Homo sapiens: one gene and its partners. The protein of the gene in region 3 binds, or shares a complex with, the protein of the main gene of each other region. Each region holds a gene or a part of one and is shown on either strand. Other genes may lie near its edges.

Region 1 (3,748 bases), on a different chromosome or scaffold from region 3:
CAGGAAGCCTCCGAGACCCCCCACCCACCCAAGACCCTCGCTCCGACCTCCCCACCTGCACCCTGCAGGCGCCACGAGCACGCAGGGACCTCAGACGGGATGCGCTCTGTGGGGCAGGTCCCCGGCTCCCACGGCTGAGACCCATGGCCCCTAGAGACCAGTGGCAGCTCCACAGACAGCAGCCACAGCCCTCCCTCACTCCACAAACCATGGGAACAAGAAGGCCCAGGTGATAGCCGGCTACCCCGCGTCTCAGAGCTCACTGGGGCCCAGGCACCAGGGCCGGGAACCAGGTTATCAGATGGCCGGCCAGAATACAGGCACCCTGGGCCTCCTGGTCTCTGCAAGGTCCCTGGAGCCCTAGGGGGCCAATATTCACCCTATAACAAAGAGGCTGGGGGCCGGGCGCGGTGGCTCACGCCTGTAATCCCAGCACTTTGGGAGGCCAAGGCAGGCGGATCACGAGGTCAGGAGATCGAGACCATCCTGGCTAACTTGGTGAAACCCCGTCTCTACTAAAAAATACAAAAAAATTAGCCGGGCGTGGTGGCAGGCACTTGGAGTCCCAGCTACTCGGGAGGCTGAGGCAGGAGAATGGTGTGAACCCAGGAGGCGGAGCTTGCAGTGAGCCGAGATCGCGCCACTGCACTCCAGCCTGGGTGACAGAGCGAGATTCCATCTCAAAAAATAAAAAAATAAAGAGGCTGTTCATGTGGGGTGGGGACCATGTGGGCTGGCACCCCAGGGAAGTGCCAGCAAGCCCAAGACAAGCTCTCAAGAGGCTGAAGGCGATTAAAACTCCTCACTACTGTGGTCCTGCAGTGGTGGGGGCATGGGAGAACCATGGGGCCCAGGTTTTTAAACTTTTTTTCAGACACCAGGTCTTGCTCTGTTGCTCAGGTTGGAGTGCAGCAGTGCAATCACAGCTCACAGCCTCAACCTCCTGGGCTCAAACAATCCTCCTGCCTTAGCCTCCTGAGTAGCTGGGGCCACAGGCACATGTACCGCCATGCCTGGCTAATTACATTTTTTTTTTTTTTGTAGAGACAGGGTCTCACTATGTTGCCCAGGCTGGTCTCAAATTCCTGGGCTCGAGTGATCCTCCTGTCTTGGCCTCCCAAAGTGCTGGGATTACAGGCATGAGCCACCATGGCCAGCTACAAGAATAAATCTTGTCTCAGTATCAATGGATCCAAGGGGCAAGACCCTCTCTCTCCTAAGTCCTGACATTCCCCCAGTGCCCGGGCCGGGATGGGGACTTGCCAGCTGGGGACTTGCCGCAGGAGCTTCTGGGGGAGAGTCTGAGGACTTGGCGGCCTCACTGGGGAGGGGAGCGAGCGGGGGCAGGGAAATGAGGGAGGGTCCTCTGGGGAGGAGACAGGGACCCTGCGTTCATAGCGGGAATTAACAAGGGCAGAAGAGGAAAGGCGCCCGAGAGGAGCCCCACGGCACGCTCACTACCCCACAGCAAGGCTGCTCTCCGCTGGGCGCCACAGCTCACGCCTGGAACCCCAGCACTGTGGGAGGCTGAAGCAGGAGGATGGCTTGAGCCCAGGAGTTCGAGACCAGCCCGGGCAACACAGTGAGACCTCAGCTTATCTCTTTTTTTTGAGACGGAGTCTCACTCTGTTACTCAGGCTGGAGTGCAGTTGCACCATCTCGGCTCACTGCAACCTCCGCCTCCCAGGTTCAAGCGATTCTCCTGCGTCAGCCTCCCGAGCAGCTGGGATTACAGGCATGCGCCACCACACCCAGCAATTTTTTTGCATTTTTAGCGGAGACGGGGTTTCACCATGTTGGTCAGGCTGGTCTCAAACTCCTGACCTCAAGAGATCCTCCTGCCTTGGCCTCCCAAAGCGCTGGGATTATAGGTGTGAGCCATTGTGCCTGGCCTCTCACGTCACCAATTTAACAAAAATTAAAATAATAAAACATTTAAAAAGGTTGTCCTCTAACTGTGCCGGGCGCCCCGTCAGTGTGTAGAGACCAGTGGGTGAGCTGGCAGCTCCCGTCTCTCCAGGCCCCACAACAATGGGGTTTCCTGCTTTGTGAGGACGTCTAGGACCAGTGAGCGCTCAAGCCCGTCCATCGGCCGCCACGAGGCTTCACGTTGGTAACTCAGAGGTTTTGTGGGTTTGAGAGAAGAAGAGCCAGCAGGGAGCCCCACGGCTGCCCCCCTCGTCCCACTGCCCCCCTCGTCCCGCTGCCCCCCTCACCCCACTATCCCCCTCGTCCCGCTGCCTGCCTCGGCCGCCACCCCACTCACCTCGCATGTACTCAATGGTGCCGTCCAGCACAAGGTTGAGGAGTGGGTCGAAGCCCTTCAGGATTCCACTGGCTTGGAGAAATCACCGGGGGAGAGAAAAGAGAAGGCATGAGATCCGTCCTGGGCGCAGGGCCCGCCCCAGCATGGCCCAGGTATGGGGCTAACTGCTCCAGGGATGGAGGACTGAGGGTAGGAGAGGGCTCCCGGGAGTGGCCGATGACAGCCGCCTCCAGAGTGATCTCCACCACAGGCAGCAGACCACGTCTGCGGGGGGCCAGATGGCAAACACTTCTGGCCGTGTGGGCCACAGGGTGCCGGTCACAGCTGCTGGCTCGGGCTGCCTGGGTGGAGGCAGCTTCGGTAATGAGTCCATGTGTGGCTGAACTGCGGCCGGTCAGCTCTACTCACAGGCACTGAACTGTGAATTTCATGTAATTTCCACATCGTGAGACAGTCTTGTTTTGATCCCTTTCTAGCTATTTAAAAGTCATAAAAACAATTCTCAGCTCAAAAGCAGCAGCAAAACAGGCGGCGGCACGTGTACGCGGTGGGACCACCAGCCAGGAAGAGGAGCGAGGCTGGCGCAGGCCACAGCGCGGATGCGCCTGAGGACGCACCTGAGGACGTCACGCTCAGTGAGAGACGCCAGACACAGAAGGCTGCGCACCGTGAGATCCCATTTCTATGAAATGTCCAGGACAGGCCAATCCACAAAGACAGGGAAGGGATGCGTGGGTGCCAGGGCCAGGGATGGGACAGGCAGTGATGGCTGATGGGGACAGGGCTTCCTGTAGGGGAGACAGAGTGCTCCGCTCTGACAGCGGTGATGACTGCGCTGCCTGACCTGTGCTGAGTCCCTCAGTGAGTTCACGGAATACAAAAGAACAAATCCCAGCCCTGCTGCTTAGGGCTTGCGGGGAGCAGGCAACAGAGATGCTCTGAGACCCAGGTGCAAAGGCTTCGGGGGCTGAGACGGTCTCTGTGGCTTCTCTCTCCACGCTGCCTGCCCCACCCCTCAAGCTTCGCCGCCTTGGGCCACAACTTGCCAACTTAGGTTAGGGCTCTCTGACCCGGTGGTGATCTCTGCCATCTGATCCTGCTCCGCAGTGTCTGGTGACACTGAGAAGGGTGAAGGGGGAGCTGTGTGTCCCCAGCAGAGGCCAGCCCACCCTCTCTGCCTGGGACTCCCCTCCACTGCCCTGCAGGCTCCTGCAGCCGAGGCCCAGCAGCAGCTCCACCTCTGCGCTCACTGAGGGGCGTCCCGCAGCCACCCCCTCCCTGCTCTCCTTCTTACCCCTGTCATCTTTCAGGTGCTTCCTCCAGACACCAACCCACAGCCCTTACGGTGCTGCCCTCTGCACGCCCACGCCAATCTCAGGAAGCAGGCACCACCAATCTCGGGAAGCAGGCACCACCAATCTCGGGAAGCAGGCACCCCGGGCATTATTCTGCCTGCCTGTCTCCTCCCAAGGCAGGGCCGAG
Region 2 (3,748 bases), on a different chromosome or scaffold from region 3:
TTGCCAAATTTTGCTTTAAAGTATATAAAGTCTTAAATCATCTAATAAATGAAAAATATGAAACTCTGGCAGAATGAATTAAGTTTTCTCAAACTAAAGGCCTCAATTCCACTCTTAAATATTCTTAAATTTTAAATGATAATATTCAGTATCATTTAAAATCCCTATGGTAAGCAGGGAAATGCTGATACATTTTTAAAAACCAGCTCTCTGGAAAAAAAGCGGGAGACTGATTTGCTGCATTTACTAATATCCATTGTGCAAACACTCCCACCACGGCCAATTTCAAGCTACTAACAAGACATCAATTAACCAGCTTGTAAAATTCCTTAAAATATAACAATATGCTTTCATGGGCCAGTAGAAGCTGGCTCTAGCACAAGACTTTTTTCACTGAAGTTCAAGAAAAAAAAATTGTTTTAAGTAGGAGAAACCTTAAAATCAATTACTATGCACAGCTCCAATATAAACAGTGTTGTTCTGATCCAGAGACCTGGGCCCTATCTGCTCTGTCTCTCTCTCATTACTTACAGCTCACCTTGTAACTCCACCTAAAAGTCATCTCTAAAATATTTTATAAACTCTTGATTTTTGATTACAGATCAAATTATTTATTCATCTAAAGGTGATGCTAACATAAACAACTTAAATGAGTAAATTATTCCTGCACTTTTTAAGTTATTCCAGGGGACAGTTAGTCCCCTAGAATTTGTTAAATGTTCTAGCTTAAAATTGCTAATGTATCTTTTGCTTCTTTCCAACTATATTTTGATTCAGTGTAGTACTCACTAGAAAACTGATTTGGCATTCTTCTAGCCTCTATAACTATACTAATACTGGCCACATGTAACTATTAAAATTAATTACAATTAAATAAAATTTAAAATTCAGTTCCTCTGTCACATCAGCCACTTTTCTTTTTTTTTTCAAGATGGAGTTTCACTCTTTTTGCCCAGGCTGGAGTGCAAAGGCGCAACCTTGGCTCACTGCAACCTCCATCTACCAGGTTCAAGAAATTCTTCTGCCTCAGCCTCCCAAGTAGCTGGGATTACAGGCATGCACCACCACACCAGGCTAATTTTTCTATTTTAAGGAGAGACGGGGTTTCACTATGCTGGCCAGGCTGGTCTTGAACTCCTGGGCTCAGGTGATCCACCCACCTTGGCCTCTCAAAGTGCTGAGATTATAGGCATGAGCCACGGCACGTGAACCACATTAGCCACTTTTCTTTTTTATTTTTTGACACGGAGTTTTGCTCTTGTTGCCCAGGCTGGAATGCAGTGCTGCGATCTCGGCTCACTGCAACTTCCACCTCCCAGGCGAATTCTCCTGACTCAGCCTCCCGAGTAGCTGGGATTACAGGCTTGCGCCACCACGCCTGGCTAATTTTTATATTTTTAGTAAAGACGCGGTTTCACCACATTGGCCAAGTTGGTCTCGAACTCCTGACCTCAAGTGATCCACCCGCCTCCACCTCCCAAAGTGCTGGGATTACATGCTTGAACCACTGTGCCCGGCCTTTTTTTTTTTGAATTGGTGTCTCAATCTGTCACCCAGGCTGGAGTGCAGTAGGGTGATCTCGGCTCACTGCAACCTCTACCTCCTGGGTTCAAGTGATTCTCCCACCTCAGCCTCCCAAGTAGCTGGAACTACAGGCGCACGCCACCAAGCCTGGCTAATTTTTGTATTTTTAGTAGAGACAGTGTTTTGCCATGTTGGCGAGGCCGGTCTTGAACTCCTGACCTGATCCACTTGCCTCAGACTCCCAAAGTGCTGGGATTACAGGCACCATGCCTGGCCAATTACTCTTGAACTTTTATATCTGTCTGTCCCAAGTAAACTGAGGCCACAGGGACATCTTAAGTGTGTCAATGATACTAAAAAATTAAAAGAAAATGAATAACGAGTAAGTACTTATTTATAAATACACCTATGTTATTGAGCATGAATTAATATTGTTCAAATCAGAGATTTCAAAACATTTTTCAAACTTTGGCCTTGGACTCTAGAAATATGTTCCTCTAAAATTCTGGGTATTTGAAAGAACGTTTTAAGAAGTCTCTCTAATGAAGTATTTAATATAAGGCAGAGCCCTTTCTGGACTCTACCCAGGCTACTTAACTAGTAGAAAAATGGGCAAATCTCAGGTAAAAGTTTAATTTGTAGAGAGACAGCTTTGGTTGAAACCTAAAGAAGTGCTGACATAAAATGTATACATATGCCTTATTTTACACAAACATAAGAAAAGGTATATTTACGAAAGAAATGAATGCAAGATTCTATTAACTATGTATGGACAATACAGTAGGGTATTTTGGGGAAAGCCTCTTCTCCATAAAGTAAGGCAGTATCATTTATAATTTTAACAGATATATTTTACTTACACGTTGTCACCTCTTACAATGTATAATCCTAGTACCACTTGTTCTACCCCCTGTGAAGAGCTGAATACTCGTTCATGGCTTTCATCCAAAATCAAATTAATGGTCTGGTCAAAACCTTTCAGTGTTCCCTGTAAAGAAAATATTCAGGAGAAAAAGAGAAATATTCTGGTTTACCTGAAAGTGTAAATTTAACCTCACAGTCATTTTAGTTGCCAGGTATTCCAATACAAGTACCTATACGACGGCAAATAAAATGCCTTTTTTATAACCAACAGTATTCGAGGGTACACAATTTACCTCTTGGTTATTTGGCTGGGGTGGGGGGACCTGCACCACACATCTCACTCATATGTAGAGTTGACAGCAGTTGCAAAGGACACCTATGTACTAATGTGACTATCTCCAAGTAAGTAGCATAAAAGCTTATGTAGACCAGCAGCTAAAGGTATAAACTAAGACAAAGGATATTTAAGGGAAAATGATAGCCAAATATACATAAATAAGGAAGAACCATACATACCAACTACAGCAATGTAATAGTATCACTATATGCTATATGCCAGCACTAGGCAGTGTGCTAAACACACTGTACACATTTTCTCAACTCATCTCTACCCTTTGATTTAGTACTATAATTAGCCCCATTTCAAAGAAGAAACTGAGGCACAGAATGGTGTGTCTTATGATCACATGGGTAGTAAGTGGCAGAGCCAGGAGATGAACCACAAAAGGCTAGCTCCTGAGCCAGACCACTAAACCATAACATTCTATACTATTATACACAAGTAAATATAATTTGCCATTTTTCAGATTCAAATCAGTCCCATAAATATACTAAAAATTTAACTAGTAGTTACATGTAACACCTAATGAGTACATACTAGTTACCAGTGTTCTGTGTGTCTCACATGTATTGTTTAATGTGTATCATATGGATTTATTGTTTAATTCTCCCAGTAAGGTAGATACAAATGTGACTATACTAATTAAAACCAGAACTTGAAGGAAATAATCAGGGAGAGTTTTATGAAAGCTTAGTATTGAATAAAAGAAGACATGGGTCTAGCATAACAGAGTAACTCACATGGTATTCAAGTTTCTGAAGAAATATCAACTAACATTGGTTTTGATGGTTAAACCTCTCAAGTTCTTAAACTGTTTTATCTTCTGAAAGTCAAAATATATAAAATGAGAATGAAATAAAAAAGAGAATGAAATAAAATGAGAATGAAATCTGTAACTTGGAAGAGAAACAAAATATGGAGTATTTATTGAACTAGTTAGCAAATGGTTGTTATCATAAACATCCATTCATAACTTCTTGACTTCATTTTACACATTATCCCATCAAATAAATTATGTGT
Region 3 (3,748 bases):
CATGAGCCACACGTCCAGCCCGTGAGCCACTGCGCCTGACCTGTATTTACTCTTTAAACTATATATTGCTTTGTATTGTTTTCCAATACACGATACAATCTCTAAGCTTATCTGTAAATTTAAGGCACAAGGCATTTATTTATTGCTAAATTTTAAAATTTTTCTTAGAGATGGGGTCTTGCTCTATTGCCTGGGCTAGAGTGCAATGGAGTAATCACTGCTCACTGCAGCCTCAAACTCCTGGGCTCAAGCTTTCCTCCTTCCTCAGCCTCCCAAAGTGCTGGGATTACAGGCTTGAGCCACTGCACCCTATCCATTTATTTCTTCTGTACATCTTCCACCTCGCCTAGCCCTGAAATATTTCTCAAATTAAAGAGGTTCCAGGGCCCTGGGCACACCCACCCCCAACAGACTTGTTGGAACAGGTACCTACCTCAGGTCATTCTTTAGTTCCACGACCACATCCTTGCCCACAAGGGACTTGAAAAAAGAATAGAAGAGCTATTGGGAGAGAGGGGGAAAACCATCATGTGGGAAGGAGCATGGTAGGGAGGAGTGTCCTTTGACAGTATTACCAAATACTGGTATTGTGAACCCCACTGCATCCCTGACAGTTCTCAAAATTTCACAGGAAAGAATAATTGGTTGACAGAGCTGAAAGGCTGGAGCCCAAATTATTCTGCACACTGCACTGAGCCCATCACTTAAAGTCCCAGAGAGACTCTGCCCTGCATACGTCGGCCTCCCCACTGTGCTCTCTCAGTCGACCACCTTTCTCGGGTACCTGCCCACTCCTTTCAATGAATTGTAGAAAATATCCCACCCGCACCCTGCCGAAGCTTGCCTGGCAGAGAAGTGCTCTGAGGTCTAACTTTTCCGTCTCCCGCTATCCTCACTGAATCTCTCTCAGGGTTGGGGTTTTTTCCCTCATCATGGAAAAAATATCCCATTTGTTCTCAGTGCCTCCTCAATGAACCTGAGAAACAGTACAGTACTAAAGATGAAGATAAAAACTCCGGACCTAACTCCAGCCTAGGGGTACAAAGGCCAGATCCCCCGCCCCAACCATGCGAGGTCCCCGAGGGCGCCCCCTTTTGACGTCACGGTACCCACCATGGTGCTGGCGCCGCGGGCAGCGGGCCGGACCGGGAAGACAGCAGGGTGCTGCGAGCAGGTCTGGGGAAACCGAAGCGCGAGCCCGCGCGTGGGGCGAGGCGGGACCGCGCAGGCGCAGCGGGAAGCGACGCAGAAAGCTCCAAGCGCTGACGGGCAAAGCGCGGCCGACTTGCGGCTGGGGAGCGCAAGCTGGGTAGAGTAGAGGGGAGGAGGAAGCCGGGAAAGGGGCGGGGTTTCCTTCATTCCGACTTCCTCCCTGGCCGGCCGGCTCCCATTGCGCAGGCGCGGACCCTAGCCTGGGCTGCCAGACGGGTGGCGGGACTCAGCGCCTGAGCTCAAAGGATTTTGTTCTTTTCCAGAATCCTGCCATCTACAGCGTGATGTGTTTGTGCCCTACACACACTTCCTATCGAGAATTGTGGGGAGTTTGTTAAGATTATGAAGTGTGCACTTTTCTATATTTGTTAAAGTAAAAACATAAAATTTAAAAAATAAAATTAAAAAATGTTTTGAATCTTAAATTCAGCTGATAAAAAGAAAAAAAGGCCGAGGGCCGTGGCTCAAGCCTTTAATCCCAGCACTCTGGGAGGCCTAGGTGGGTGGATTGTGTGAGGTCAGGAGTTCGAGACCAGTCTAGCCAACATGGTGAAACCCCATCTTCACTAAAAATACAAAAAAAATTAGGCGTGGTCGCAGGCTCCTGTAATACCAGCTACTCGGGAGGCTGAGGGAAGAGAATCGCTTGAACCTGGGAGGCGGAGGTTGCAGTGAACCGAGATCGCGCCACTGCACTGCAGCCTGGGCGACAGAGCAAGACTCCGTCTCAAAAAAAAAAAAAAAAAAAATGACCGGGAGCAGTGGCTCACACCTGTAATCCCAGCACTTTGGGCGGCCAAGGCAAGTGGATCGCCTGAGGTCAGGAGTTCGAGACCAGCCTGGTCAACATGGCGAAATTCTGTCTCTACTAAAAACCCAAAAATTAGCCGGGTGTGGTGGCACGCGCCTGTAAATCCAGGAGGCATAGGTTGCAGTGAGTGGAGATCTTGCCATTGCACTCCAGCCTGGGCAACAAGAGCAAAACTCCATCCCAAAAAACAAAAAATGTTGAGGCCTGTAAATCCCAGCATTTGGGGAGGCTGAGGCAGGAGGATCATTTGAACCCAAGAGTTACAGTGAGCTACAATCTCCCCACTGCATTCCAGCCTGGGTGACAGAGCGAGACTCTCTCTAGAAAAAAGAAAATTATAAACAAACAACGTTGAGCAGTCCCAGAGATAAGGAGGAGCTGGAGCACAAATTTTGATTTTATCAAAGGTTACCAATAAATACATTTCTCCAAAGGAGCCAACCTCAATCTCCGCATTTCTTACACACTTTTGCCAAGACTGTCCTGTAAAGGACTGTGTAAAACTAAAGAGACTGTGGCTCACAGATACAAATAACCCAGTCTAACATTTCACTGTTAAATGTTTCAAACACAAACAGACAGAAATGCAGTTACATATTATTCTAACTCATATCCCCCAGGTTTTTATAAATATGTATTAGGACACAGGTAAAAGAAAAAAATGTTTTTGAGATGGAGTCTCGCTCTATCACCAGGCTGGAGTGTGGTGCCACGATCTCAGCTCACTGCAACCTCCACGTCCCGGGTTCAAGCGATTCCTCTGCCTCACCCTCCTGAGTAGCTGGGACTACAGGCACGCATCACCGTCCTCAGCTAATTTTTGTATTTTTAGTAGAGACGGGGTTTCACCATGTTGGGCAGGATGGTCTCAATCTCTTGACCTCATGATCCGCCCGCCTCGGCCTCCCAAAGTGCTGGGATTACAGGCGTGAGCCACTGTGCCCAGCTGGTAAAAATATTTTTTCATGGACTGAGACTTCATAAAACTTGTATTTGTCATCTTGCATAGACATACTTATTTGTCAAGAGTTTGTTATAGAAATATTTTCTGGGGCTGGGCACGGTGGCTCACGCCTATAATTCCAGCACTTTGGGAGGCTGAGGTGGGTGGATCACCTGAGGTCAGGAGTTCAGAACAGCCTGGTCAACATGGTGAAATCCCGTCTCTACTAAAAACACAAACATTAGCCGGGCATGGTGGTGAGCGCCTGTAATCCCAGCTACTCATGAGGCTGAGGCAGGAGAATCGCTTGAATCTGGGAGGCAAAGTTTGCAGTGAGCCGAGATCGTGCCATTGCACTCCAGCTTGGGCGACAAGAGCGAAACTGTTTCCAAAAAAAAAAAAAAAGAAAAGAAATATTTTCTCCATGTAATGGATGTAAACAATGAACTCTGTGAGTGCATAGATGCTGAATCTCCTGGACCTTACCTATAAGTGACATCAGGACATCAAGCAGGATTTGTCCCTCCACCCCCAGTTGAGTCCTAAACTCCAAAACCAGCTTGTAACTGATTAAAAGCAGTTATAGTTTGCCATCTGTTCCATCTGTGCTAAAGGTGTCTGAGGATCAAAAATTATGTGGCTGATTGAAACAATGAGTTCATGGGCCGGGCACGGTGGCTCACGCCTGTAATCCCAGCACTTTGGGAGGCCGAGGCGGGCGGATCACGAGGTCAGGAGATCGAGACCATCCTGGCTAACACAGTGAAACCCCGTCTCTACTA

What was found.
Region 1: LSM2 (region 3) and LSM7 share a complex: the UniProt entries of both Homo sapiens proteins name them as parts of the precatalytic spliceosome.
Region 2: LSM2 (region 3) and LSM8 share a complex: the UniProt entries of both Homo sapiens proteins name them as parts of the precatalytic spliceosome.

The regions. Positions count from the first base shown.
Region 1 is NC_000019.10:2,321,859-2,325,606, forward strand, and holds part of LSM7 (U6 snRNA-associated Sm-like protein LSm7), read right to left. Parts: intron 2,339-3,748; coding exon 2,267-2,338; intron 1-2,266. UniProt on the Homo sapiens protein: Plays a role in pre-mRNA splicing as component of the U4/U6-U5 tri-snRNP complex that is involved in spliceosome assembly, and as component of the precatalytic spliceosome (spliceosome B complex).
Region 2 is NC_000007.14:118,187,042-118,190,789, reverse strand, and holds part of LSM8 (LSM8 homolog, U6 small nuclear RNA associated), read right to left. Parts: intron 2,513-3,748; coding exon 2,385-2,512; intron 1-2,384. UniProt on the Homo sapiens protein: Plays a role in pre-mRNA splicing as component of the U4/U6-U5 tri-snRNP complex that is involved in spliceosome assembly, and as component of the precatalytic spliceosome (spliceosome B complex).
Region 3 is NC_000006.12:31,805,642-31,809,389, forward strand, and holds the start of LSM2 (U6 snRNA-associated Sm-like protein LSm2), read right to left. Parts: upstream 1,326-3,748; 5' UTR 1,117-1,325; coding exon 1,114-1,116; intron 502-1,113; coding exon 434-501; intron 1-433. UniProt on the Homo sapiens protein: Plays a role in pre-mRNA splicing as component of the U4/U6-U5 tri-snRNP complex that is involved in spliceosome assembly, and as component of the precatalytic spliceosome (spliceosome B complex).